5 linked regions of the Homo sapiens genome follow. The protein of the gene in region 4 purifies or fractionates together with the protein of the main gene of each other region. This does not show direct contact. Each region holds a gene or a part of one and is shown on either strand. Other genes may lie near its edges. The genes, in order: SIRT5, USP33, SIRT2, DMD and ABCA1.

The links.
Region 1: the proteins of DMD (region 4) and SIRT5 purify together in Homo sapiens (affinity purification with mass spectrometry; one large-scale study listed by BioGRID and IntAct). This does not show direct contact.
Region 2: the proteins of DMD (region 4) and USP33 purify together in Homo sapiens (co-immunoprecipitation; one large-scale study listed by IntAct). This does not show direct contact.
Region 3: the proteins of DMD (region 4) and SIRT2 purify together in Homo sapiens (affinity purification with mass spectrometry; 2 studies listed by BioGRID and IntAct, with this or other methods). This does not show direct contact.
Region 5: the proteins of DMD (region 4) and ABCA1 purify together in Homo sapiens (co-immunoprecipitation; one study listed by IntAct). This does not show direct contact.

Annotation. Positions count from the first base shown.
Region 1 is NC_000006.12:13,594,184-13,600,024, reverse strand, and holds part of SIRT5 (NAD-dependent protein deacylase sirtuin-5, mitochondrial), read right to left. Parts: intron 4,549-5,841; coding exon 4,461-4,548; intron 3,063-4,460; coding exon 3,009-3,062; intron 2,298-3,008; exon of another isoform or gene 2,161-2,297; intron 996-2,160; exon of another isoform or gene 994-995; coding exon 870-993; exon of another isoform or gene 384-869; intron 1-383. UniProt on the Homo sapiens protein: NAD-dependent lysine demalonylase, desuccinylase and deglutarylase that specifically removes malonyl, succinyl and glutaryl groups on target proteins.
Region 2 is NC_000001.11:77,737,012-77,742,852, forward strand, and holds part of USP33 (ubiquitin carboxyl-terminal hydrolase 33), read right to left. Parts: intron 4,738-5,841; coding exon of another isoform or gene 4,687-4,737; coding exon 4,606-4,686; intron 4,419-4,605; coding exon 4,365-4,418; intron 3,929-4,364; coding exon 3,866-3,928; intron 2,407-3,865; coding exon 2,254-2,406; intron 1-2,253. UniProt on the Homo sapiens protein: Deubiquitinating enzyme involved in various processes such as centrosome duplication, cellular migration and beta-2 adrenergic receptor/ADRB2 recycling.
Region 3 is NC_000019.10:38,881,176-38,887,016, reverse strand, and holds part of SIRT2 (NAD-dependent protein deacetylase sirtuin-2), read left to right. Parts: intron 1-3,260; coding exon 3,261-3,390; intron 3,391-5,525; coding exon 5,526-5,585; intron 5,586-5,841. UniProt on the Homo sapiens protein: NAD-dependent protein deacetylase, which deacetylates internal lysines on histone and alpha-tubulin as well as many other proteins such as key transcription factors.
Region 4 is NC_000023.11:32,339,831-32,345,671, forward strand, and holds part of DMD (dystrophin), read right to left. Parts: intron 3,457-5,841; coding exon 3,304-3,456; intron 3,021-3,303; coding exon of another isoform or gene 3,012-3,020; exon of another isoform or gene 2,537-3,011; intron 2,453-2,536; coding exon 2,270-2,452; intron 1-2,269. UniProt on the Homo sapiens protein: Anchors the extracellular matrix to the cytoskeleton via F-actin. Ligand for dystroglycan.
Region 5 is NC_000009.12:104,816,559-104,822,399, reverse strand, and holds part of ABCA1 (phospholipid-transporting ATPase ABCA1), read left to right. Parts: intron 1-893; coding exon 894-1,025; intron 1,026-2,330; coding exon 2,331-2,473; intron 2,474-2,676; coding exon 2,677-2,814; intron 2,815-3,516; coding exon 3,517-3,737; intron 3,738-4,995; coding exon 4,996-5,068; intron 5,069-5,841. UniProt on the Homo sapiens protein: Catalyzes the translocation of specific phospholipids from the cytoplasmic to the extracellular/lumenal leaflet of membrane coupled to the hydrolysis of ATP.

The sequences.
Region 1 (5,841 bases), on a different chromosome or scaffold from region 4:
AGAATTAGCTAAATATATCATTCCTTATCCATATATAACACCATACAGTCAATTGAAAGATGATATTGATTTAGACATATTGATATGGAACATGCTAAGTGAACTGCTGCGTGAACAAAGTAGTTTCAAAACAGAACATATGTCATGAACTCAGTTTTGAATTTTAATTAATACGTGTACATCTGCATAAGAAAAGGTTTAGACCAGAGGTGGGCAAACTTATTCTGAAAATGACCATACAGTAAATTTTTCAGGCTTTGCAGGCCATTCAATCTCTGTCACAAGTACTCAACTCTGCCACTTGTAGTTTGAAAGTAGTCATAGACAGTGTGTGGAAGAATGAGTGTGGCTGAGTTCCAATAAAACTTTATTTCCAAAAACAGGTAGCAGGCCCAATGTGGCCCAAAGGCTGCTGTTTGCTCACTCCTGGGTCTAGAAGAAAACATACTAAACTGCTAACGGTAACTATTTCTGGATAGCAGAACTATGGGCGATTTCTAATTTCCTCTTTATAATGTGATAATTTTTGCATGTTCTCAATTAAATTTAATCATAAGCATGTATTATTTAAAAAACCAATAGCATGTTCTTTTCTTTGTTTTTGGTGGGGCTGGGGGAGGAGGCTTTGAGATGCCCAAGACATGCATGGTTTCCTATTTTAATACAAATTCTTATTCATTGTTTCTCAGTTTTTCTATAGGATACCACAAAGACCTCTCAACATACATTTGAAGGAAAGGAAGAAATGGAGGGAGGAGAGAAGGCGGGAAGGAAAGAAGCAAGGGAGGGAGGAAGGAAAAGAGGAGAGGGGGAAGGAAAAAATAACAAACTCCAGTCCTGTCCTGGGGTTAGGGAAGGGCATGACCCACCACTAGACATAAATCACAGTGGGCGAGCTCTCTGTCAACCTCCTCCAGAATGGCAGGATCCAGGTTTTCTCCAAACCACACGACGTGAGGTCGCAGCAAGCCCCCGCAGCCTGCCTCTTCACACCTGGAAGAATGGGATCCTTAAGCCAACCCCGAGCCAAGTCTGCCCAGCTGGATCGGAGGGAGGCCAGGGGCTGCCCCAAACCTAGTACATCCAGATGGGTCACCTCTGATGCCTCTTATTCCCTACACCCTCCCTCCCAGCCTATATAAACTTGCCTTGCTTATGAAGCATCAGGTTTAATGGTCTTTTTTTTTTTTTTTTTTTTTGAGACGGAGTCTCACTCTGCTGCCCAGGCGGAAGTGCAATGCCATGGTCTCCGCTCACTGCAACCTCTGCCTCCCAGGTTCAAGCAATTCTGCCTCAGCCTCCCGAGCAGCTGGGACTACAGTCATGTGTGACCACACCCAGCTAATTTTCGTATTCTTAGTAGAGACATGTTTCACCACATTCGCCGGGCTGGTCTCAAACTGCTGACCTCAGGTGATCTGCCCTCCTCGGCCTCCCAAAGTGCTGGGATTACAGGCATGAGCCACCGCGCCCTGCAGAACTGTCCTTATTTTTTATCTTGTCTGTATGTACTTGATGTGCTGACACATTGTTTCAGCTAAGCTTTCCCAGTTCATTCATTATGCTCACATTTGTGCTCACAGCCACCCAGACCTGGGAGACATACTGGACTCAGATTTGCCTCCCACCCCAAGCATCCCCTAATTTCATCAATGACCTCCTTTCATGTTCTCTCAGGTTCATGTCTCTCTGGCCCAGTATGTAGCCAGCTTTCCTGTGTCCATTACTAAAAATCTCTCTTCTTTCACTCCCTCCTACCTCAGGGTTACCTTCTATACACCTCCTAAAACCATCCCCCAAACACCATTTTCATCATAGTAATCTCCTGCATCACAGGAATCCTCCAGGTCTACCTATTCCTTCAGAAGAAAACTTTTAATATTTAGCAATTAAAACCCTCATGAGGAAAATTTAAAAGGTTCTGTGGTTAAATAAGCCAGTAAAGCATTAACATACGTATTACAACCACTTTTTAGAAGGCAGCAATGTGGATTAAATGCTCTAAAAAGTCCTGCAGTAAAGCAAACATATTTTAACTTTGTTTAGTCTAACATTTCCATATTTATTTGAGTGCCTAACATGTTTTTTTCAAGTAATGTCTCAACGTAACATTAAATTAATGTTCTATGAAACACTTTTAGAAGTGCTGTTTTATTTTACCTTAAAAACACTCTAATCCAGCCGGGTGCAGTGGTTCACGCCTGTAATCCCAGCATGTTGGGAGGCTGAGGCGGGTGGATCATCTGAGGTCAAGAGCTCGAGACCAGCCTGGCCAACATGGCGAAACCTCATCCCTGCTAAAAACACAAAAAATAGCCAGGCGTGGTGGCGGGCGCCTATAATCCCAGCTACTCGGGAGGCTGAGGCAGAAGAATCACTTCAACCCAGGAGGTGGAGGTTGCAGTGAGCCAAGATCGTACCATTGCACTCCAGCCTGGGTGACAGAGTGAGATTCCATCTCAAAAAAAAATAAAATAAAATAAACACAACAAAAAAACTTCTAATCCAATTACAGGTTATAGAAGTGCTGTTTTAATGCCTGGTTTTGAAAAATTGGCATAAAAATCTTCCTTTTTTTTTTTTTTTTTTTTAATCTATGAACATTCTGTTTGGTCCTGTAACCTCTCCTATTCAGGTCCTTTCATTGCCTCCCTAACCCTGGATTAATAATGCCAGTGATGTTATTTGACCAGTTACAGGTCAGCCCCTATGCTTTCTGTACACTGGGTAACCACCTGTCGCACGACAGCTTCAGAAACTTTCCCGACCTCAAATGATCCTACCACAACACAAAGCAAAAAGAGGTTGGAAAAAAATCATTCTTTTCATCCTAATTTGGTTCATCCTTTGTCCTTTCACTTTTGGTCTCAGAGATCAAGCCTGGTTTTTACATTTGTGCATTTGATTTAAGAGGCGTCTTGCCAAATACATGTTTAGGTTTTGATGTCTGTTTTTTTTTTTGTTTTGGTAACCTGGAACACCAGTACAAATCAGAGTTTTCTACCTACCGGGGAAGTTTCTCAACTGGGATGCTGGCATCTTGAGTTCCAGGTTCTGGAGCACTGAAGTAAATAATATTAGAAAAGAAAGATTGTTATTGGCATAATAAAAAATAAAGAAACAACATAACTCAGTTTGTATATTTGCCTGGCAGTATGTGGTATAAAACTCCTAATTAATACATGCTCACTTGGAAGGGCATTAGAAGGAAGGACCCCAAGCCATTAATTACCAGTGGTGCTGGGCACAGTGGCTCATGCCTGTAATCCCAGCATTTGGTGAGGCCAAAGTGGGAGGACTGCTTGAGGCCAGAAGTTCAAGACAACCCTCGGCAATACAGTAAGACTGCATTTCTACCAGAAATACAAAAATTAGCTGAGTGTGGTGATGTGTGCCTATAGTCCTAGCTACTTGGGAGGCTGAGGCAGGAGGATTGCTCGAGCCCAGGAGTTGGAGGCTGCAGTAAGGTGTGATTGTGCCACTGTACTCCAGCCTGGGAAACAGAGCAAGAACCTGTCTCAGAAAAAAAAAAATCACCAGTGGTTGTACTGCCAGTGAGGGAATGCATGTGTGGGGAGGGCTGGAGTGGCTGGGTGTGCCAAGGGGGAACTTCATGTTTACCTTTATACATCATCATCATCATCATTTGTATCCTCTGCAATGACATTATATAGTCCTTATACAATTTATACTGTTTTTAAAAGGCTGAGTGGAATTTTTCTCAATATTGTGTCTACCCTCAAATTTTTTCCTCATTGTAATAATAGTACATGTTCATAATAGAAATATAGGAAAATTCAGAAAGATATAAAGAAGAAATTAAAAATTACCCATAATCCCTCCACTCCTGATATTCCTTATTAACATTTTGTTGTATTTTCTTCTGGTCTTTTAACTATATACAGATACACGAACTCATTGTGTGTACAAATTTAGGACCCTGTGGTTTTCACTTAACACTGTAAGTTGTGAGCAAAATATTTCTTTTATCACATGGCTATATTTAGTTTTTTTGTTTGTTTGTTTGTTTTTTGAGACAGGGTCTCCCTCTGTCACCCAGGCTGTAGTGCAGTGGCATGATCTCAGCTCACTGCAGCCTTGACTTCCCAGGCTCAAATAACCCTCCCACCTCAGCCTCCCTAGTAGCTGGGACTACAGGCATGTGCCACCACACCCAGCTAATTTTTGTGGTTTTTTGTTTTGTTTTGTTTTTTTGTAGGACAGGTTTCTCACTGTGTTGCCCAGGCTGGTCTTGAACTCCTGAACTCAAGCAGTCTCCCCACCTTGTAACCCCAAAGTGCTGGGATTACAGGCATGAGCCACTGCACCCAGCCTTGTATTTAGTCTTATTTCTCATAAATATCCATGGGAATCTTTGATGAATGTTCAATTTCCTCACATTTATGTTCAACCTAAAGGAGAAAACAACCTATACTTATTCTGTAGTGTGGTATAATTACCCTTTTCCTGATAAAGCTGGACAAATTGGACTCTTGTAATTCTCAGCCACAACTCCACAAGAGGTACATCGAGTTTTAAATAAGCTACCTGAAAAATACATATGAAGCAAATCCAGAATTTAGTATAATCAAGAGCAACCTTCTCCATGTCTAAAAGGGTATAAGATACTTTATTTTTCACACTTCATTTCATGTTTTGGTCTCACCCAGTTACCCAGGCTGGAGTGTAGCAGTACGATCATAGCTCACTGCAGCTTCCAACTCATGGGCTCAAGCGATCCTCCCACCTTTGCCTCCTGAGCAGCTGGGACTATAGGTGTGCACCGCCACACTGAGCCATACTTCATTTTAGCAAATGGGCCTACCCTAGCTTTAGCTTTCATGGGAAACAGAGGCATGCAGTACTCTTAAGCCAGTCAAGAGCATATGCCCTCAAGGACTTTATAATCTGGAGGAAAAATAAATAACTCCATGACTAATGTGCCATCAGATGACCTTGGAGTGGTGTTCAAGTGGGCAGAAGTTGCCAATAGGGTAGAGGGAGCTCAACCTAAATCTAAGGGCGTGATTTATTGACATGACTGACAAAGGTTCAATGGCGTGGGATATGTTTACAAAATTTTAACTTCGATTTCAGAAAGCTTGAATCTTTTATACAAAAGCACCTCAATAAATAAGTAATCAACTAATAAGTGAAAAAAGTAATTGTTAATACTAACCACCACTTATTGAGCTGAAGCAATCATGGTGGCCACAGTTTATGAAATGGGTACCAGGCAACTGGTGCCGTGCAGAGCACTTTCAACCCTAGTGGACATGCGCTGCTCCGTCCTGCCCACCAGTCCTTCCTTGGGGAGCACCATCCCTGCTCTCTCGCATGCTGAGCCAATAGGGCTGTGGGTCACATCCCAAATACAAGCTCAGCCACATGCTGCGCACGGCCCCCATGTGGTGTCCATCCCTCTGCAGTCGTGTTTGGTCAGAAGGGTGGGCGTGTGGACCAAGCAAGCCTACCCAGAGGTTTATTTTCTGAGCAGGTGGCTGAGCTGGAGCCGTCGGAGGCACTCTCCCTTGGCGCGTGGAGACAGATCAATTGCAGAGAGAGAAGGGAGGCCACCTCAAAGAGTGAGCAAAGCTGAAAGAAGGAGGGGGACAGGGGCCGGGAGGAAAGATGACATAAGCTGCACCACTAGGCTCCTCAGTTTTGTGAGCCAATAAACCTACTTTGTCAGTTTTAGCATAGACATTTTTCCCCATTTTCACATCTCTGAAATTCAGATGTGTCCTACAATTGCTACTGGCCAGATGAGACTGTAACATCATCATCATGCTTGCACAGACTTGTTGAAGGAGAACACTGAAAAATGGGGTGACTTTGTTG
Region 2 (5,841 bases), on a different chromosome or scaffold from region 4:
ACCTGTTAGCCAAATGCTAGTAAACACTTTAAAAAAAAAAACGAAAAAAACTTTGAGCTAAAGTTTAAAAAATTCGGAGACGACAAATAAAAATCAAAATTTGAAAGTTCTCTTGTAATATCAGAAGATTGAACTACAATGAACCAACATTCAGCAACACCCAAACAGAGAAGGAAACTGAATAGCAGAAAGAATTTAGCATGTACTCTGGTTCTCCAAGTTATTATAGCCTTACTTTACCTCTAAAATGCAGGCATATGCACTAATTCCCAACGATTTTACTTTCCTGACATCTGTAGAGACTGGACATTTGAGTGGACTTCATACTTTCATTTTGTTTTCATAAAGTAATTGCTTTTAAAAAGATACATGCTCACTACAAAATATCTAAATACACAGAAGTACAGAGGCTTAAATCACCTGAAATTTTACTATCTAGAAAAAATGTCTATTTGAAAAATCTTATTAATATTTGCATGGCCTCCAATATTTTACTATTTTGCAAATATCCTGTGGTAAACTGGATTTCAACAGCATATAAGTTTTGGACCACTAAAGAAATCTATCTGAACCACTGTTTTCTTCTGAATAATTTCTTCAACAATGGGATCATAAGGAAGTTGAATGAAATTAAGTTTATGCCTTTTATGTGTTAACATATTTACAAGTCATCAGAAAATTATTAACAAGCCATCAGGAAAGTATCAGTATACTTATTCTATCAGATTCAACATTTATTAAAGTTTGTAATCTTGATCTTTTCTGGCAGAAATGGCAACAGATAGCTTATTTAACTTACTTCTCTAGTAAGTGATGCTGATAGTTTTGCCTTTATATATTATTAGTTCCTTGTGTGATTAAACTTTAGTCATAACATTACACTTTTTTCTTTTTTAAAACTTTTTCTACTTATTACCATTCAGCTATCTTCAGTGGGACAAACTTTTGTTAATAATGTAAGAGGATTCAACGAAACGGCCATTTTCATACTATCTGGACTTTTGAAAAAGACTAAACATGTTTGTGAATGATAAATAGGTATAAGTGGGAGAAACAGTAATGGTTATAATTAACTAGAGCCATTCAACTGAGAAACTGAAAATGCAAGAAATTATTCTTTGACTAAAATCTAGCCATCTTTCATGTGTAAGGCAAGCAAATTTATTATCACAAATATCTACCATAAGAATGTGATACAAACATACAACAGAAAAACCTGACAGTTGGTATCAATGAACAAGTACAGAAATATGTGATTTCTATAACACACATGAGGAAAAAAACTTGCTGTTAATCAAATCTGATCAAATTCTGATCAACTGATGATCTGATTAAGAAGCCAACTATTCTAAGTTAATTTCCTTTTTCCTATTTTTCTATGACTTTAAGAATTCTGAAAATTAAGTGATAAATTCTGCAAGCAAACCCATGTGTTTTCTAAGTCTCTTGATCCAAAAGGAGAAAAATCTTTTTTTCTTTTTTTTTTTTAGATGGAGTCTCACTCTGTCACCTAGGCTGGAGTGCAGTGGCAAGGTCTCGGCTCACTGCCAGCTCTGCCTCCCAGGTTCACGCCATTCTCCTGCCTCAGCCTCCAAAGTAGCTGGGAATACAGGTGCCCGCCACCACACCCGGCTAATGTTTTGTATTTTTAGTAGAGACGGGGTGTCACCATGTTAGCCAGGATGGTCTCGATCTCCTGACCTCGTGATCCAGCCGCCTTGGCCTCCCAAAGCACTGGGATTACAGGCGTGAGCCACCGCACCCAGCCCAAAGGGAGAAAAATCTTTAACCCAAAGACTGATGCTAAGCTTTATTATATTCTACTTTGTTGTCAATAATAAGTAAAATGTTCACAGTAATACAAAGGGGATGGAGGGGAGGAGAGAACGGGGAAGAGAGCTGAATTAGTAACTGCCATATGCTATCAAAGAAGGCCCACCACCTTTCTTGAAATCAGACTTACCAGAAAAAGATAAAGACTACTTGAGTCATTTAAAAAAAAAAACTTCAAAAATTCATTAGGGCCTTTTCCATCTTCAAACAGGTGGGCTTCAATCTCACCCTAATCTAGCACTCTAAGCAACACAAGAAAGGGGAGTCTGAGTGCTTTATTTGAGAGAAAAAAGGCACATTACAGAAATTTTCAAAGTACAGGTTAGGCAGTATTCCTTTTGAAAATTTCAGCTACATGACAAATTCTGAAATTATTACCGGAATGTTTTACAGCTTAACTAAGTGGATCTAGATTATTACCTGGACACTGTTTTCTTGTATTTGGTGAGGTTGTCTTACATGAGGCAATGAAGGCTGAGTTCCTAATTTCCTATCCAAAAATACTTCTTTGCTGCAAGCATAACACCATACTCGAAGAGTGGTAAGGTTCACAGTTAGATAATGCTTTGTCTCCTATATAATTTCACAGTAGAGGGAAAAGAGGAACCAAAATTACATATACTTGAAAAGACTTCTTCAAAAGATAACAGAAGATAAACTGCTTGCCTTTGATGAGTAACAATATACTCAAAAGCTAATTTAGAACATGAAAAAAATTCTTTAGATAAACTTCTAAGGTATAATAAACAGTAACAACATCTAAGCCTACTCTAGAAATTACTCTGCCATTCTCCCCTCACTATTCATTATACAAAAAGATAAACGCAAGAGTGTAAGACCTTGCTTTGCAGTCTACAAATAAATATAACACAAGAAAATAATTAACAATAGCAAGTAACTATTCTAAGAAATCAGAATGGCAAAAGAACACAAATGACATGAGTCAAGGCATAAAACAGCTCTAGCAATACAGAATATATAATCTTGGAAAGATAAAAGTCTAGCCTTTCACAACCAGAGTTCTGCTACAGAATTAAGCCCTACAAAAAATGATCTGAGTGACTAATTTATCAATTCTCCCAATGGTGGTACACAGCAAATACCATCTTAGATGCACAGAAAGAGGCAAATGATATACAATGATGACTCAGAGCTTGGGTATTCAGGCTTAATTAATTCTATAGAGGAATCCTGGTTGAGAACAGTTGATGCTGTAGAGGTATCAATGTGCATCTTAAAACAAAGTCATTCGAGAAACTTTCCATTTAGAATGGGAGCTCTACATAACACTATAGAAGAGGCATGCCAGAGTTACATGGGAAGTACCAAACAACCAGAGCAAAGCAGAAAGGTGAGTCCAGTTAGGACTATGTGCAGGAAAAGGCAATATGACATGAGCTGAGACTTAAAGAAGTTAGCCAGGCCATGTCATAAACCTAAGCACCCACTCTCTCTTGGGCTTCAACCTCCTAATATGCCAGCTATCACCTTCAAATATCTGGATATACACTTTTTTTTTTTTTTTTGAGATGGAGTTTCGCTCTTGTTGCCCAGGCTGGAGTGCAATGGCACGATCTCGGCTCACTGCAACCTCCGCCTCCCAGGTTCAAACAATTCTCCTGCCTCAGCCTCCCGAGTAGCTGGGATTACAGGTGCCCACCACCACACCCAGCTAATTTTTTTGTACTTTTAATAGAGACAGGGTTTCGCCATGTTGGCCAGGCTGGTCTCGAACTCCTGACCTCAGGTGATCCACCTGCCTTGGCCTTCCAAAGTGCTGGGATTCAGGCGTGAGCCACCATGCCTGGCCGGATGTACACTTTTGAAATCAGTGCTTTCTTAATCACAACCTCATTCTAATGTTCATCCTCCTAGCAATTCCCTTCCCCATCCTTCACAGAGAATGTAAGTGAAGTTTTAACTTAGAGTGCAAATTTGAATTACAACTTGAATTAATAATGTTATACTGGCTTTCCCTTTCCTTCAGGCACTTTTTTTAACAAGTCTTCCATTAAATTTTTTATATACATACCTGAGAATGTATGGTGCTGTGATCTACTTGTGATTCACCACAGCCAACATATGAACATCTATTCTATAAATAATTATATAGGAAGAAAAATAAGGTACTTTATAATATACATGTAAATTTATAACAGCATTACAATTACATTTACAATTAAGTTTGGATTACCTGTTTTACATTCAATGAGTAAATGACTTTCCAGTCATTAAATTTAACCAAATGTTTCCAGGCACAAAATAAAACCAGGATATATTTCTAAGCTAAAAGCTATGTCATTTCTAATAAAAGGCAAGCATAAAATAGCTGAGTGATTTACTAAAAACTACAAAAGCACTACAGATTAAGATCTTTCCAAAGTTTAATTTTTGTTATTAATAATGACCTTTTAAAAGCAAGTTTAATTTACAAAAATCACTTTAAGTATCAAAAATTTTCTGGTTATGATTATTCAGATCCAAATTTATTATTATTATAGCAATCTTTTCAGGAAAAAACATATACACACCTCCAGACATGCCCAAAGATTTGGTCCTTGGACTTTACAATCCTGACAAGTACCCTATAAAAAGAAATTAAAAAGACAACATTGGTTATATTGACACAAACACATACAATTCACTAATGCACTAATGACATCATACATATTTTTAAAATACTGCTCATAGAGTATTACAGTAATTTATGAAAATTACACATTCAAGAGAAAAGTGAATAGTTTTTCAAGGAAGAAAAAACCTGTTTCTTACAAGGGATTTTTGTATCAAATCTTCTTTTGTTATTTCACCAACTGAATCCAAATGTGGACAATGATTTCGAAAAGCTGACATTTTGTTAGGAATTTTTTCCTGTTTCCCAAGACTTTCAAAATGAGGTAACACCTATAAGAAAAGTAACACACACAAAAAAATTAATAAATGCTTACAATGCCTGCAAAGATTCCAAAAAATAAAAAAATTAAAATGTTAACATATTAAAAATGATTAAAAGATAACATAAGAATGATATAAGTTTGCCCTGTAAAAAGAGTGTATTCTCAAACATAGATGAGTTTTCAGAATTGAAGTTAATCTGAACACTGGAAATTTCTCTACTACATAAACATTTTATTAAAATTGACATCTATAAACAAATGTAAGTTTGTTTCTCCATGACTTTTGCTGCTTTTCCCCTCTCATTTCACTTTTTATAGATAAATAAAAGGGGGGAATATTCAAGTTATTCAACTGTGAAGCACTTTTATCCTTTTAAAAAAAAAATTAATCCTTAGGCTGGACTAGGAGTTGAAAAAAAAAAACTTCAAGTAGAAAGCTTCATTTTTCTACTAATAGGACCCCCTACTGATGGCATAAATTAAATCATCTGGTATCCTGGCCTTATACCAGGATAAGCACTTTATATCAGGGTTTCTCGATCCCGGCACTATTGACACTTAGGGCCAGATAATTCTTCGCTGTGAGGGATTGTCCTGTGCACTGCAGGTTATTTGGCAACATTCCCACTTCTATCCACAAGAGACAGACAGACCATCCCTGCCACCACTCTGAACTCTGATGACCAGTGTCTCTAGACTGTTTTAAATTATACCCTCTGGGGGACAAAATCTCTCCAGGTTTGAGAACCCCATTTTCATGATCTTTACAACCCCTGAAATAGGCACCATTATTAGCTTCATTTGCACATAAGGCTAAGAGATGCAAACTTTACTGATCCACAGTGTTTGGTTCAAGTAAAGCGAGTGATTTCCAAAGGTCTCAAGTCTAATTTGGTATTCCTAGATCTTTTGGTTGTACCTTTTTAATAACAGGGCTTTTCATGCTCTTAATTCAACTTTGAGGTTTGAGAACACTTTCCCAAAAAAAGTTTAGAACTTGCTAGGATAGAATGAAACAGTTTAAAAGTTTGAACTTCAGAAACACTGTAAATTTAATTTCCTTTGTGGTTTATAAGTTATTCAATAAACCATGCAGGTCTATGTAATAGTT
Region 3 (5,841 bases), on a different chromosome or scaffold from region 4:
GCCCTGAGCTGAGATTGCCCCACTGCACTCCAGCCTGGGTGACAGAGAGAGACTCCGTCTCAAAAAAAGAAAAAAAATGACACATCACATACAAACTATTATATAAAGGCCAGGCGCGGTGGCTCACGTCTGTAATCCCAGCACTTTGGGAGGCCAAAGTCAACGTCAGGAGTTTAAGACCAGCCTGGCCAACATGGTGAAACCCTGTCTCTACTAAAAATACAAAAATTAGCTGGGTGTGGTGGTGCGTGCCTGTAATCCCAGCTACTCAGGATGCTGAGGCAGGAGAATCACTTAAACCTGGGAGGCAGAGGTTGCAGTGAGCCAAGATTCCGCCATTGCACTCCAACCTGGGCAACAGAGCAAGACTCCATCTCAAAAAAAAAAAAAAAAAAATTAGCCAGGCATGGTAGTGCACACCTGTAGTCCCAGCTACTTGGGAGCTTGAGAGAGGAGGATTGCTTGAGCCCAGGATTTCAAGGCTACAGTGAGCTATGATCAAGCTACTGTACTCCAGCCTGGACCAGTAGAGCAAAATCCTGTCAAAAGAAAAAAAAAAAAAAACCATGTTGTCAAAGAATAACAGAACGCAGAGGTATTTCGGTGGTTCTTTTCCACGCTGTTCAGTTATTTGCTTACTGTTCAGTTATTTGCAAATTGCTCACTCACATGTGAGGGAGTCAGTGGGTAGACTGAGTCAAGTACCAAAGGCAAAACCAAGATTTAGAATAGTGGGCAAGGGAGGAAAGTTACAGGGCGTGTGGGAACAGTGACAGTGACTCTTGTCTGTAGGCTTTGGAGATAAGGTGGTTGCTGGTAGGGAGCCCAGAAGGCAGTTAGAGCATTCTTTCTGCCCTTGAAGGGAAACAAACCCTTCCCGTTGTTTCTGGAGTCCCTGGGAAACGCTGTCAGTTTGGCCCTGGGCCACACATGCGAGCCATCTCTGCGTAACCTCTGCCAGTGTCCTCTGTCAGCACCTGTTTTAGCGGCATTCCTCACAGGCAAACAACAGCTGCTCCAAAGGGGGTGGTTGTTTTAAGAAAAATGAGCGCGCACAAATGTCTGTGCAGAAAAGAACATTCCCACCTGTTTAATATGGAAAGTCTCACTGTCTTAAAAGAAAACAGTGGCCGGGCGCAGTGGCTCACACCTGTAATCCCAGCACTTTGGGAGGCTGAGGTGGGCAGATCACGAGGTCAGGAGATCGAGACCATCCTGACCAACATGGTGAAACCCCGTCTCTACTAAAAATACAAAAATTAGCTAGGCATGGTGGCGCGTGCCTGTGTTCCCAGCTACCTGGAAGGCTGAGGCAGGAGAATCACTTGAACCTGGGAGGCGGAGCTTGCAGTGAGCCAAGATTGCGCCACTGCACTCCAGCCTGGCAACAGAGCAAGACTCCGTCTCAAAAAAAAAAAAAAAAATAGCCACGCATGGTGGCGGGTGCCTGTAATCTCAGCTACTTGAGAGGCGGAGGCAGGGAGAATTGCTTGAACTCAGGAGGCAGTGGTTGCAGTGAGCCGAGATAGCGCCATTGTACTCCAGCCTGGGCAACAAGAGTGAAACTCCATCTGAAAAAAAAAAAAAAGAAAAGAAAAGAAAAGAAAACAGTGGCTGGGCATGGTGTCTCACGCCTGTAATCCCAACGCTTTGGGAGGCTGAAGTGGGAGGATCACTTGAGCCCAGGAGTTCAAGACCAGCCCGGGCAAATAGGGAGACCACCCCACCCCCCATCTCTACAAAAATAATTAAAAAGATAAAAAATTAGCCGGGCATGGTGGCATTTGCCTGTAGTCCCAGCTACTCAGTGGGCTGAGGTGGGAGGATGGCTTGAGCCCAGGAGGTGAAGGCTACAGTGAGCTGTGATCAGACCACTACACTCCAGCCTGAGTGACAGAGCAAGACCCTGCCTCCAAAAAAAGAAAAGAACACAGGTGAATATGCCATCTATGAAACAGGCCATAGTAAGAAAGGACCCTGGCTACTAAAGGGGAAGATAGTGATTAAAGCCAAGGAAGGGCCAGGCATGATGACTCACACTGTAATCCCAGCACATTGGGAGGCTGAGGCAGAAGGCTCGCTGACCAGCCTGGGCAACATAGTGAGACCCCATCTCTACAGAAAATTTTAAAAATCAGCCAGATGTGGAGGCTGAGGTGGGAGGATTGCTTGAGCCCAGGAGTTGGAGGCTGCAGTGAGCTATGATTGTACCACTGCACTATAGCCTGGGCGACAGAGTGAGACCTTGTCTCAAATACATAAAAAAACATGGCTAGGCACAGTGGCTCATGTCTATAATCCCAGCACTTTGGGAGGCCGAGGCAAGCAAATCACGAGGTCCAGAGTTCGAGACCAGCCTAGCCAACATGGTGAAACCCCATCTCTACTAAAAATACAAAAATTAGCCAGTCATGGTGGTGCGTGCCTGTAATCCCAGCTACTTGGGAGACTGAGGCAGGAAAATCTCTTGAACCTGGGAGTCAGAGGTTGCAGTGAGCCGAGATTGTGCCACTGCACTCCAGCCTGGGTGACAGAGCAAGACTCCATCTCAAAAAACAAACAAACAAACAAACAAACAAACCACACCTAGTAAGCCCTCCTGATTCATTTATGTTAATGCTTGCCTAGAGCTGCCACATGCAGCTGTGCAGGGTGCGCACTGCACAAGGATGCCACATCTGAGGGGGCTCCATTAATAACAGAGACATTGTAAATGTATGTTAATTTCAGCAATTAATGACAGGTGGAAATAAAGCATCTGGCTCTAATAAAACAACATTTTTTTTCTGAAAAATGAAAGCAAATGGCCTGAATTTGCAGAATAAAAGCCACACAGGCTGTGGAGTGGCTGTGGGCCTGGCCTCATAGATATTTAGGTTTGGGCCCCTTTTTTTTTTTTTTTTTTTTTAATTTTTTGTAGAGACAAGCGTCTTGATATGTTGCTCAGGCAGGTCTTGAACTCCTGGCCTCAAGTGATCCTCCCACCTCAGCCTCCCAAAGTGCTGGGATTATAGGCGTGAGCCGCCATGCCCAGCCTGGCCCCTGCCTTTAAGCAGCCTTGACTGTCACCCTTTAAGTGGCACCATTGGGATGAACAGAAGAGTCTTCAGATAAACCCTGCCACTTGCTTCTCCTCCCTCCCTTCTCCACCTGTCCCCACCACCTCACTGCTCCTCGTGGCCCTCAACTCCCTACTGTGCCTTCTGGCCTACAAGGGGTGGCTCACTCCTCACCCCTCTTCCCTCCATCTCTCCCTCTAGAACATAGATACCCTGGAGCGAATAGCCGGGCTGGAACAGGAGGACTTGGTGGAGGCGCACGGCACCTTCTACACATCACACTGCGTCAGCGCCAGCTGCCGGCACGAATACCCGCTAAGCTGGATGAAAGGTGAGGCTGGAGGGCATCCTGAGGGCAGGCCTCCTCTCAGCACCAGGAGCAGTGTCTCCATGCAGTGGGCACCCATTCTGTCCTGCTCAATTCTTTGGGGTTTTTTTGTTTTGTTTGTTTGTTTTTGAGACAGAGTCTCACTCTGTCGCCCACGCGGGGAGTTCAGTGGGTGATCATGGCTCACTGCAGCCCAACTGCCTGATTTCCTGTCTTTGGCTGTTTTTAATATATGATAGTAGGCCAGGAGCAGTGGCTCACACCTGTAATCCTAGCACTTTGGGAGGCCAAGGCGGGCAGATCACCTGAGGTCAGGAGTTCAAGACCAGCCTGGCTAACATGGTGAAACCCCGTTTCTACTAGAAATACAAAAAAAAAAAAATTAGCCTGGTGTGGTGGCATGCGCCTGTAATCCCAGCTACTCAGGAGGCTGAGGCAGGAGAATCGCTTGAACCTGGGAGGCGGAGGCTGCAGTGAGCTGAGTTCGCACCATTGCACTCCAGCTTGGGCAACAAGAGCAAAACTCTGTCTCAAAAAAAAAAAAAAAAAAAAAACAAGAAGTCACTTATTCCACTCATGGAAAGCCATTTCTGACATTCTTTATGCTGATTTAACAAAGCCTCTGGTGTCCCTGTGAGATAAGGACAGCTGCAGCATTTGCAGAAGGGCCTCTGGAGTGTGGCTGTTCTGATAAAATGCCAGCTGAGTGCCCCTGGGCTGAGGATTCCTGAATAGCCCAACTGCAAGCAGCTGGGGGCAGTGTACAATTCACATTACCCCCATTATGTGTCATTGACAGCAGCGTCACAGGCAGCACCCACGGTGTCATGCTGTCCATGCAGAAATATTTTAAAGAAAATTACCGACTACTGACATTGAAACAATGCTTTATAAATGTGTGCTGAATGAATGAATGGACAGTTGAGCAAATGACTTAGAATTCAGTGGGTTGCAAGTGACAGAAATGCTTTCTTTCTTTCTTTTTTTTTTTTTTGAGATGGAGTCTTGCTCTGTCACCCAGGCTGGAGTGCAGTGGTGCAATCTCGGCTCACTGCAACCTCCGCCTCCCGGGTTCAAGCAATTCTCCCTGCCTCGGCCTCCCAAGTAGCTGGGATTACAGGCACGTGCTACAACCCCTGGCTAATTTTTATATTTTTAGTAGAGACGGGGTTTCACCACGTTGGCCAGGCTGGTCTCAAACTCCTGACCTCAAACGATCCACTCGCCTCAGCCTCCCAAAGTGCTGGGATTACAGGCGTGAGCCACCACACCCGGCCAGAAATGCTTTCAAGCTTCCTAAATCAATAAGAAATAAGGCCAGGCACAGTGGCTCATGCCTGTAATCCCAACACTTTTGGACGTCGAGGTGGGTGGATCACTTGAGCCCAGGAGTTTGAGAACAGCCTGGGCAACATAGGGAGATCCCATCTCTAAAAAAAATAAAATGTAGCCAGGTGCGATGGTGGATGCCTGTGAGCCCAGCTACTCGGGAGGCTAAGGCAGGAGGATCACTTGAGCCTGGGAAGTCGGTGGTGCAGTAAGCTATGATCACACCACTGCACTCAACCATGATTGCACCACCACACTCCAGCCTGGGCAACAGAGTGAGAACCTGTCTCAAAAAAACAAACAAACCAATAAGGCCGGGCGCAGTGGCTCACACCTGTAATTGCAGCTCTTTGAGAAGCCAAAGTGGGCAGATTTGCTTGAGCCCAGGAGTTTGAGACCAGCCTGGGCAACATGGCGAAACCCTGTCTCTACAAAAAATACAAAATTTAGCCGGGCGTGCTGGCATGCACCTGTAATCCCAGCTACTCAGGAGGCTGAGGCAGGAGGATCACTTGAAGCTGGGAGGTTGAGGCTACAGTAAGCCATGATCGTGCCACTGCATTCCAGCCCGGGCAACAGAGTGAGACCTTATCTCAAAAAAAAAAAGAAAGAAAAAAACAAAAAAAATGCAACAACAAGAAGAGAGGTCTTTTCTGAGCAGAGTGGACACCTCAGGAGACACCCATCACACTCCAAGTGATGGAGGTGTGTTCATGTTAACAGTGGAAGAGGGGTGGGGGTGCTGCACCTCCAGACTCCGGCCCAGATCCTCTTACTGCCTTCTCTTTCTTCCCCTTCCCCATACCCAGAGAAGATCTTCTCTGAGGTGACGCCCAAGTGTGAAGACTGTCAGAGCCTGGTGAAGCCTGGTGAGCCTCTGGCCAGGGACCTGCCCAGGTGGATTTGGGTGGGGGTCCCCTCCTCCCCCTGACCCCCTCCCAAAGGCCACACCCGCACACATCTGGCCACCTCTGTCTCTCTGAACAGTGCCCCAGATCCATCCTGGGGAGAATGGGGTCTGTGCCCCTGGCCGGTCCCCACTGCTCCCAACTCCCACTGTGGCCTCCGGGTCTGCCATTGCTCCCACCTGTCCTCTCTGCCTCCCCATGTCACTGTCTCTGTCCG
Region 4 (5,841 bases):
AACAAAAAGGGACAGTTAGGAAAAGTAAAAATCAAACAATTAGAGAAGGAGAATATAGGGGGAGGTAAGAAATTCTGAAGCTATGGCATATGCTGCATCAGAGCCATTGTAAGGTTATATCAAATACTACTTTTCATTAAGCTGTTACTGTGACTATCACAAATGACTCTAGGGCGTAAGAATTGGGAAAGATAACTCTAATCAGTGGCCACAGTGAAATTAGTTTTAAAATGCATTGACAATTGGTCAAGTATAAAGATGTATCTTGAATATTTCTACACCCACCTGTCTATCTATCTACCTACCAACCTATATACCTACTTATCATCTATCAATTATCCCTCAGTTCTAATTAAAATACGATGCCAAATATAACTGCAATATTAAATTGATTATTCTTCATACAGATTGTGATTACTTTATTATCATGGATAATTAAGAGTTAACACAAAAATAGCCCCCTTCACATTCTGAATTTTGGATCTTTAATATATAAAACTTAAGAATAAATCGTTTATGAGGAAAATATATCCCAGAATTTTACTACAATTTTTTAAAAATATATACTGGTTCACACATGCTTCCTTTATTTCACCAGTCATTATTACGTTGTACAAATATTTGTTGAGAGCCTACTATGAATAGGGACATAATGGCATTTTAAGTAAGTGGTTTATGGAGATTTTTGATCCTGTGCCTATTTAGCCATAAAGCATTAGCAACTTGATTAGTTTGTAACGAATTTTAAACCTGCATATTGGGTGTGTCAAGACCTGGGGAAAATTGGAATGGAGAAATGAGTTAGTAGTCAGATAATTCAAAGCAAAGGACTCCCCCTTGAATGATCTATTAAATTGAGGTGAAACTATTTTATTAGAATTTTCTTTTTGATTGCCTTAATCTTTCGCTTCATTTTGCATCTGCAGACACAGGCTTGCTGGTTAGTGTAAGGTTATTTATGACACATTACATTCATAACATCTAATATGAAGGATAATAGGCTGAAACATTCAGCCAGGTGGAATTAGACTTCACATGCAATACAGTTTCGCTATTTCTCGTATTCTTCCAATTGCTCAGAATAATTCACCTGCTATTAAACTTTAGGGTATTAGATTTAACAGAAAACAGTGTATTTATTAATTTTCTTGAAGTATTAAAAGAAGTCACAATAATATGCAACATACTTCCCTTATATGCTTATAAAATTAAGTTATGGTAACTGCTTTTGACATTTTAAAAATATACACCAAATTAAATGGAACTGACACTATCACAGAAGAAGTTCCCAAGAAGTCTCATACATGGGCTGAACCCTATGCAGTTATTATTTACATAGGGCAAAATGGTTGAGTATCTGTTTGATTCATATAATTCAACCTAACTTAACTATAAAGACTTAGTTTCCAGATTTTGACATCCTGGTTTTGTGAGGAGTACTTTCTTCTATAATTACAGATGATGATCATTCCTCTTCATCTTACAAGTGTTAATAATAGGAACAAAAATGTACCTGTCAGAAAACCTCTATGGTTTATACCTACTACAAATAAAGAAGTGAGACCAAGCTAACAATTCTGAATCGCCTTTTTAAAGAGAGAACCATACACTTTCCATTCAGTTGTTTGAAAGAAGAGCAGTCACTCCTTTTTGTTTTGGCTGGTAACATTTCAGTAATAACATTATCTGATATTGTTCAATCTGCAATCAATTAGCAACCATCTTACTAGGCATCCAGTTCTTTTATGGGCACTGTAACCCATTAAGTAGTTAAACCAGGTGTGAGGATTAAGCTATTATTCTTCAAGTCAATGAGATAATGGCTTATGCAGGTTGACATAAGATGTACCATGAAATATTTATTATTTATCATGTATACATTAAGAAAGTAAAATCAGCATGGGATGATCTCAGGAAAGCAATACATATTTTTTGGATTAGACATTGAAGTAAAGTGAATGTATGATAAATTGACAAATTAACATTGCCAATGTTATGAAAAATGATGTAGCAAAAAAAATTAAGATGTATTTTCATTTTTGATAAGGGGTTTTCCCTGTTATCTGTTAATTTCTTGTGTCTTTAATTGGCAAAATTAAGCACTAGTGTTACAGAAGCCCAAAGTGAGGGAAACCACTCACTTTCAGAATGTACATTAGAAGTTTAAAACTGTACCCAGATTTTTTGTCTCTTTTTTTTTTATTAGTAGGCCTCTGTTAATAGAGTAGTAGTTGCAAACACATACGTGGGTTTGCCAGTAACAACTCACAATTTGTGCAAAGTTGAGTCTTCGAAACTGAGCAAATTTGCTCTCAATTTCCCGCCAGCGCTTGCTGAGCTGGATCTGAGTTGGCTCCACTGCCATTGCGGCCCCATCCTCAGACAAGCCCTCAGCTTGCCTACGCACTGCATTCAGCTCCTCTTTCTTCTTCTGCAATTCCCGATCAATTTCCTATTGAGCAAAACCAATACAGGGCCCAGGGCAGTTAGCTAACCACATCAACCGACTTGCAAGCAGCAAATACTTCTCTCAAAATTTCAAAGGCTGTTGTCCCTTTATTGTCATCCTTTGAAGTTTACAAATATGAAAGGCATGACTGTCATCCTCGCTCAATAACCCAAATATTATTTCAGTTATCCTTTGAATGCTTGGTTTTAGATATTCTAATTAAGTAAATATTGAAATTGGTCTAACATTTTCTTTCTTCTAAATTCCTCTGGTGTCTTGGGATTTGAAACAATTTGGAGTGATAACTCATTATTTATTAGGGACCGTCCACATAGAATATAATTTAGAGGGTAAGTGAATAAGTTATTTATTTCCTTTTTAAAGGTTTGAGGAACTCAACAGAGAATGAAGCAAAATAAAAAGTGTAAAATAATAACAGAAAAAAACATATTTAGACAATATGCAAATAAATCTATAGAGAGTGAACACTGATGTGTGAAGATGCTCTGATGAAATGAATGGGCTAACATGAGTAAGAAGTCGTCCATATACCGATAAGTCATTAGTTCATCTGGAACAAAGATACACAAAGTCAATTACAATTTTACCAGAAAACACATCACATTTCTTAAATCACTTTACATAGTCTAAAACATTTTATTCATTCAACATTACGTCAATTGAATAACACTTAATACAATACATTTACTGAAAACAACACACAATACAAGGAAATGCATCAAATCAAAGAGAACGTTAATAGAAACAAGAACATCAACATTTTAAATATGATCTTCACAGGTTAATTAAACTGTATAATAAAATCTGGTATTGACATTCTAAAACAACATTACCTTTATTTTCCTTTCATCTCTGGGCTCAGGTAGGCTGGCTAATTTTTTTTCAATGTCATCCAAGCATTTCAGGAGATCATCAGCCTGCCTCTTGTACTGATACCACTGATGAGAAATTTCTAGAGCCTTTTTTCTTCTTTGAGACCTCAAATCCTGTTCATGGTGCAGACATTATTAAAATATCAATATATATGTATAGTGCACTTCTGGCTGCAGTTATTTATCAAAATAATTTGCGTCCCTCATCTTTTTGTACAACTTAGGTTAAAATCATATTTAAATGCAAAATATACAAAGACATAATTAAATTGCCTATGCATGAGGCGGGACCCATGTATAGGAAGCTAAGAAACCTGAATAACACACTTAAAGTATTTTCTCTTAGCATGTTCAAACTTGCTTAAAAATTTTGTCACATTCAATTGACTCTTAATGAGCTAACTGTTGTGTAGTTTATGTGCAAGAGTTTAATATACGAATACAATTGACTTAACTAGATACAAACTCACAAACCTAGTGAGTTTGTATCTGACTTAAAATAGGTAAAATTCTAAAATGTATATCTTTAGCCTTGGGGCTCATCAACAAAACTTTATGTACTCAACCAATATACATTCATGTTTTTAGAAATGCCTACATAAGAGTTTCATAGGCCATTAATATTTTATGATTAGAAATATAAAGCCATTTTAGTTGTCTTATAAACTGTTCCAAGCTGTATGTGTAGAAGTGTCACCACTGTTCGTATATTGGTGAACATAACTAATAAAAAATTATGTGAGATAAATGCTTCTCCTTCCAAGGCTTGCATAGCCACATTTATCTTACTATACCAAATCATGCTCTAAATGCAAAACAATTAACTATTTGAAAAAAGAAAACAGCAAGTGCATGCTTTCAAATCAATGTGATAAGACTAATTTAATAAATCAACAATGGGAGGAAATCAGTCATCATGCTCTTTACAAGCACACTCAATATCTTCTGTGATTAATAGAATTACTCAAAATGCCATTTTATAATTCATGGGAACATAAGCTCTGCATGCAGCTTTCATTTCTACAGAAAGTAGCAATTAGGGTTTTATTCACAGGTTTAATTCGAGCGAAAAAATAATAAATATCAGGGAATTTCTAAAAATTTCATTCCATTGGAAAATTTTGACCTTCTCTAAAATATTTCATAAGGACCAGAATTGGAACTATTTGACAGGTTTAAAAAGTTATTGAATATGTTGGTATAGATTGGTTTGGCGAGTAGTGTTGACGATTTTGATTAATCACTTATAGCCTGTATTTGCAAGAATGAACTACATTTCATTATCTAGTTTGTTTAAAATTGGGAATTTAAACCTTGCTGTACTTTATGTTTTATGTTGAATTTTCAAACCTTCTGAGGAGTCAGATCGAACGCTGCTTTTTTCAAAGGTAGCAAGATACAGCCACGTGAATTAGAGTTGAGCCATGCCTTATTTGTGACATAACTCACATCTTTGCCAGGAGAAAGGGCTTGGTGGTCATCAATCTGAAACATCTTTCATTTCCTAAGCACAAAGTGATGTATAATATGTAAAATATTTAGAGATGTCATGTAGATTTCTTTAGAGGAATGCCAGATGACCATTAAACACTGCTATTCAGTAGGACACACACCATCATACGACCAGTGTAGATACTTCTGAAAGCTTGCTCACAGTTGGAAGGGTGTGAGTTACATAGCGTTCCGATTTTCTAGACACATTATGGTGTGCTTTTGCACTCCCTCGAGGAAGAGGCCTTTTCTGTTTACTATATTTATCAGCAGTTACCTTCAGAACACCTGCTGGCCAATTAGACTTTCCTTGTGGATTCCTTGCAGGCACAATATTGTGTAATTACATTCTCAGCAGTGTTTATTTGGTTGACTATAGGGGGAAAGGTTTTATTCTCTTATTTGCATGTAGAAAGCAGACTCCATCTACCTGCTAGGTGGATCCACCTTCATAACTACATAGCTCAAAAGAGTGATTTACAAGGAAAAGCTCAGCAATTAAAAGTATTAGAAAATCAGCCATGCATGCAAATAGTGATTATTGCAAAGCATATACAAAAAAAAAGTTTCACAAAACTTTCCACATGTCTAGTCTCAAGAACTTCCTAGATATTATTATAGAAAAATTAAGTTTATCCTGCTCTTCCTGCACAAACCAGATGAGTCACCTGGGGACTTGAAGCCATACACTACACTGCTTAATATGAAAGTAGCAGTTCTTATTCAAGGGCACTAAGATTATTTTTTAGGATTCCTACATAAATGAAATTTGACTTTGTAGATAGTTGCAAAGAGTGACTTTCTTAAAGGCATAATAAAGTTTTAAAAATAAATAAAAGAATCTAGGGCTTATTAAACAAGTATCAGGTTACCAAAAAATTGGACCTAATGCAAGCAAAATCAATTAAGTAAAGAAAGCAGGAATAATGGATACATGTAGATCGGTTATTCTGGCAGTTAGGCAGGTTTTTTTCAATATAAAGTAGCTGATAAAAATAAAGCACATTA
Region 5 (5,841 bases), on a different chromosome or scaffold from region 4:
CCAAGGGAAGGAGCACATGAGGAGTTGCCGAATGTGAACATGTTATCTAATCATGAGTGTCTTTCCACGTGCTAGTTTGCTAGATGTTATTTCTTCAGCCTAAAACAAGCTGGGGCCTCAGATGACCTTTCCCATGTAGTTCACAGAATTCTGCAGTGGTCTTGGAACCTGCAGCCACGAAAAGATAGATTACATATGTTGGAGGGAGTTGGTAATTCCCAGGAACTCTGTCTCTAAGCAGATGTGAGAAGCACCTGTGAGACGCAATCAAGCTGGGCAGCTGGCTTGATTGCCTTCCCTGCGACCTCAAGGACCTTACAGTGGGTAGTATCAGGAGGGGTCAGGGGCTGTAAAGCACCAGCGTTAGCCTCAGTGGCTTCCAGCACGATTCCTCAACCATTCTAACCATTCCAAAGGGTATATCTTTGGGGGGTGACATTCTTTTCCTGTTTTCTTTTTAATCTTTTTTTAAAACATAGAATTAATATATTATGAGCTTTTCAGAAGATTTTTAAAAGGCAGTCAGAAATCCTACTACCTAACACAAAAATTGTTTTTATCTTTGAATAATATGTTCTTGTTTGTCCATTTTCCATGCATGCGATGTTAGGCATACAAAATACATTTTTTAAAGAATACTTTCATTGCAGATTGGAAACTTCGTTTAAAAAATGCTCATACTAAAATTGGCATTTCTAACCCATAGGCCCACTTGTAGTTATTTACCGAAGCAAAAGGACAGCTTTGCTTTGTGTGGGTCTGGTAGGGTTCATTAGAAAGGAATGGGGGCGGTGGGAGGGTTGGTGTTCTGTTCTCTCTGCAGACTGAATGGAGCATCTAGAGTTAAGGGTAGGTCAACCCTGACTTCTGTACTTCTAAATTTTTGTCCTCAGGTCAATCCTGACCGGGTTGTTCCCCCCGACCTCGGGCACCGCCTACATCCTGGGAAAAGACATTCGCTCTGAGATGAGCACCATCCGGCAGAACCTGGGGGTCTGTCCCCAGCATAACGTGCTGTTTGACATGTGAGTACCAGCAGCACGTTAAGAATAGGCCTTTTCTGGATGTGTGTGTGTCATGCCATCATGGGAGGAGTGGGACTTAAGCATTTTACTTTGCTGTGTTTTTGTTTTTTCTTTTTTTCTTTTTTATTTTTTTGAGATGGAGTCTCGCTCTGTAGCCAGGCTGGACTGTAGTGGCGCGATCTCGGCTCACTGCAACCTTGGCCTCCCAGGTTCAAGCGATTCTCCTGCCTCAGCCTCCCGAGTAGCTGGGACTCTAGGCACACACCACCATGCCCAGCTAATTTTTGTGTTTTTAGTAGAGACGGGGTTTCACCATGTTGGCCAGGATGGTCTCAATGTCTTGACCTCGTGATCCGCCCACCTCGGTCTCCCAAAGTGCTGGGAACACAGGCATGAGCCACTGTGTCTGGCCACATTTTACTTTCTTTGAATATGGCAGGCTCACCTCCGTGAACACCTTGAGACCTAGTTGTTCTTTGATTTTAGGAGAAGTGGGAGGTGAATGGTTGAGCTGTAGAGGTGACATCAGCCCAGCCAGTGGATGGGGGCTTGGGAAACATTGCTTCCCATTATTGTCATGCTGGAGGGCCCTTTAGCCCATCCTCTCCCCCGCCACCCTCCTTATTGAGGCCTGGAGCAGACTTCCCAGACCTGGTAGTGCTTCAGGGCCCTGGTATGATGGACCTATATTTGCTGCTTAAGACATTTGCTCCCACTCAGGTTGTCCCATCAGCCATAAGGCCCCCAGGGAGCCCGTGTGATGGAGCAGAGAGAGACCTGAGCTCTGCAATCTTGGGCAAGGCTTTTCCCTTATGTTTCTTCTTATCTAAAGTGAACAGCTGGGGCTCATGTGCTCCCTCCTCATCTAAAGTGAACACATGGGGCTCATGTGCAGGGTCCTCCCCGCTTTCAGAGCCTGAGGTCCCCTGAGGCTCAGGAAGGCTGCTCCAGGTGAGTGCCGAGCTGACTTCTTGGTGGACGTGCTGTGGGGACAGCCCATTAAAGACCACATCTTGGGGCCCTGAAATTGAAAGTTGTAACTGCCTGGTGCATGGTGGCCAGGCCTGCTGGAAACAGGTTGGAAGCGATCTGTCACCTTTCACTTTGATTTCCTGAGCAGCTCATGTGGTTGCTCACTGTTGTTCTACCTTGAATCTTGAAGATTATTTTTCAGAAATTGATAAAGTTATTTTAAAAAGCACGGGGAGAGAAAAATATGCCCATTCTCATCTGTTCTGGGCCAGGGGACACTGTATTCTGGGGTATCCAGTAGGGCCCAGAGCTGACCTGCCTCCCTGTCCCCAGGCTGACTGTCGAAGAACACATCTGGTTCTATGCCCGCTTGAAAGGGCTCTCTGAGAAGCACGTGAAGGCGGAGATGGAGCAGATGGCCCTGGATGTTGGTTTGCCATCAAGCAAGCTGAAAAGCAAAACAAGCCAGCTGTCAGGTGCGGCCCAGAGCTACCTTCCCTATCCCTCTCCCCTCCTCCTCCGGCTACACACATGCGGAGGAAAATCAGCACTGCCCCAGGGTCCCAGGCTGGGTGCGGTTGGTAACAGAAACTTGTCCCTGGCTGTGCCCCTAGGTCCTCTGCCTTCACTCACTGTCTGGGGCTGGTCCTGGAGTTTGTCTTGCTCTGTTTTTTTGTAGGTGGAATGCAGAGAAAGCTATCTGTGGCCTTGGCCTTTGTCGGGGGATCTAAGGTTGTCATTCTGGATGAACCCACAGCTGGTGTGGACCCTTACTCCCGCAGGGGAATATGGGAGCTGCTGCTGAAATACCGACAAGGTGCCTGATGTGTATTTATTCTGAGTAAATGGACTGAGAGAGAGCGGGGGGCTTTTGAGAAGTGTGGCTGTATCTCATGGCTAGGCTTCTGTGAAGCCATGGGATACTCTTCTGTTATCACAGAAGAGATAAAGGGCATTGAGACTGAGATTCCTGAGAGGAGATGCTGTGTCTTTATTCATCTTTTTGTCCCCAACATGGTGCACTAAATTTATGGTTAGTTGAAAGGGTGGATGCTTAAATGAATGGAAGCGGAGAGGGGCAGGAAGACGATTGGGCTCTCTGGTTAGAGATCTGATGTGGTACAGTATGAGGAGCACAGGCAGGCTTGGAGCCAACTCTGGCTGGCCCTGAGACATTGGGAAAGTCACAACTTGCCTCACCTTCTTTGCCGATAATAATAGTGGTGCTTACCTCATAGAGGATTAAATTAAATGAGAATGCACACAAACCACCTAGCACAATGCCTGGCATATAGCAAGTTCCCAAATAAAATGCTACTGTTCTTACCTCTGTGAGGATGTGGTACCTATATATACAAAGCTTTGCCATTCTAGGGGTCATAGCCATACAGGGTGAAAGGTGGCTTCCAGGTCTCTTCCAGTGCTTACCCCTGCTAATATCTCTCTAGTCCCTGTCACTGTGACAAATCAGAACTGAGAGGCCTCACCTGTCCCACATCCTTGTGTTTGTGCCTGGCAGGCCGCACCATTATTCTCTCTACACACCACATGGATGAAGCGGACGTCCTGGGGGACAGGATTGCCATCATCTCCCATGGGAAGCTGTGCTGTGTGGGCTCCTCCCTGTTTCTGAAGAACCAGCTGGGAACAGGCTACTACCTGACCTTGGTCAAGAAAGATGTGGAATCCTCCCTCAGTTCCTGCAGAAACAGTAGTAGCACTGTGTCATACCTGAAAAAGGTGAGCTGCAGTCTTGGTGCTGGGCTGGTGTTGGGTCTGGGCAGCCAGGACTTGCTGGCTGTGAATGATTTCTCCATCTCCACCCCTTTTGCCATGTTGAAACCACCATCTCCCTGCTCTGTTGCCCCTTTGAAATCATATCATACTTAAGGCATGGAAAGCTAAGGGGCCCTCTGCTCCCATTGTGCTAGTTCTGTTGAATCCCGTTTTCCTTTTCCTATGAGGCACAGAGAGTGATGGAGAAGGTCCTTAGAGGACATTATTATGTCAAAGAAAAGAGACTTGTCAAGAGGTAAGAGCCTTGGCTACAAATGACCTGGTGTTCCTGCTCATTACTTTTCAATCTCATTGACCTTAACTTTTAAACTATAAAACAGCCAATATTTATTAGGCACTGATTTCATGCCAGAGACACTCTGGGCATGAAAGAAAGTAATGATAATAGTTAATTTTATATAGCGTTGTTACCATTTACAACCTTTTTTTTTTTTTTAACCTCTATCATCTCAATTAAAGTGCAGAGAGACCCTGGGAAGAAGGTAACTATATTTATTATCCCAGATGAGGGAAGTGAGGCTTGTAGGGAATTGGTAGCTGATTCAAGGTCACCCAGCAGGTAAATAACAGTGGTGGGACCAGACCCAATTACCAGGTATGTTTTCCTCTGTACCGCAGTACATGCCTGAGATTTATTTGTGTGTTGAAGCCAGTGGTACCTAATGTATTTACATCCCAACCTGAAACTCCTATCCACTTATTTACCTTTTAATGAGCCTCTTAACTCAAGTGCAGTCTGAGGACCAGCAGCATCAGGATCACTTGGGAACTTGTTAGAAATTCAGCAACCTGGGCCCAGCTCAGACCTACCGAATCAGAATCTGTGCATTTTAACAAGGTTCTTGAGTGGTTGAACACACATTAAAGCATGAGAAGCATTGAACTAGACATGTAGCCAGGTAAAGGCCTTGCCTGAGATGGTTGGCAAAGGCCTCATTGCAGCATTCATTGGCAGGCCACAGTTCTTTTGGCAGCTCTGCTTCCTGACCTTTCACCCTCAGGAAGCGAGGCTGTTCACACGGCACACACATGCCAGACAGGGTCCTCTGAAGCCACGGCTGCCAGTGCATGTGTCCCAGGGAAAGCTTTTTCCTTTAGTTCTCACACAACAGAGCTTCTTGGAAGCCCTCCCCGGCGAAGGTGCTGGTGGCTCTGCCTTGCTCCGTCCCTGACCCGTTCTCACCTCCTTCTTTGCCATCAGGAGGACAGTGTTTCTCAGAGCAGTTCTGATGCTGGCCTGGGCAGCGACCATGAGAGTGACACGCTGACCATCGGTAAGGACTCTGGGGTTTCTTATTCAGGTGGTGCCTGAGCTTCCCCCAGCTGGGCAGAGTGGAGGCAGAGGAGGAGAGGTGCAGAGGCTGGTGGCGCTGACTCAAGGTTTGCTGCTGGGCTGGGGCTGGGTGGCTGCGGGTGTGGGAGCAGCTTGGTGGCGGGTTGGCCTAATGCTTGCTGGGGTGCCTGGGGCTCGGTTTGGGAGCTAGCAGGGCAGTGTCCCAGAGAGCTGAGATGATTGGGGTTTGGGGAATCCCTTAGGGGAGTGGACACTGAATACCAGGGATGAGGAGCTGAGGGCCAAGCCAGGAGGGTGGGATTTGAGCTTAGTACATAAGAAGAGTGAGAGCCCAGGAGATGAGGAACAGCCTTCCAGATTTTTCTTGGGTAGCGTGTGTAGGAGGCCAGTGTCACCAGTAGCATATGTGGAACAGAAGTCTTGACCCTTGCTATCTCTGCCTAGTCCTAATGGCTGGCTTTTCCCAGGAAGGCTTCTGCTTCCATGGACTGTTAGATTAACCCTTTATTTAGGTAAATGAGGGAACCTACTTTATAAGCATAGGAAAGGGTGAAGAATCTTTTAAGATTCCTTTACTCAAGTTTTCTTTTGAAGAATCCCAGAGCTTAGGCAATAGACACCAGACTTTGAGCCTCAGTTATCCATTCACCCATCCACCCACCCACCCACCCATCCTTCCATCCTCCCATCCTCCCATTCACCCATCCACCCATCCAGCTGTCCACCCATTCTACACTGAGTACCTATAATGTG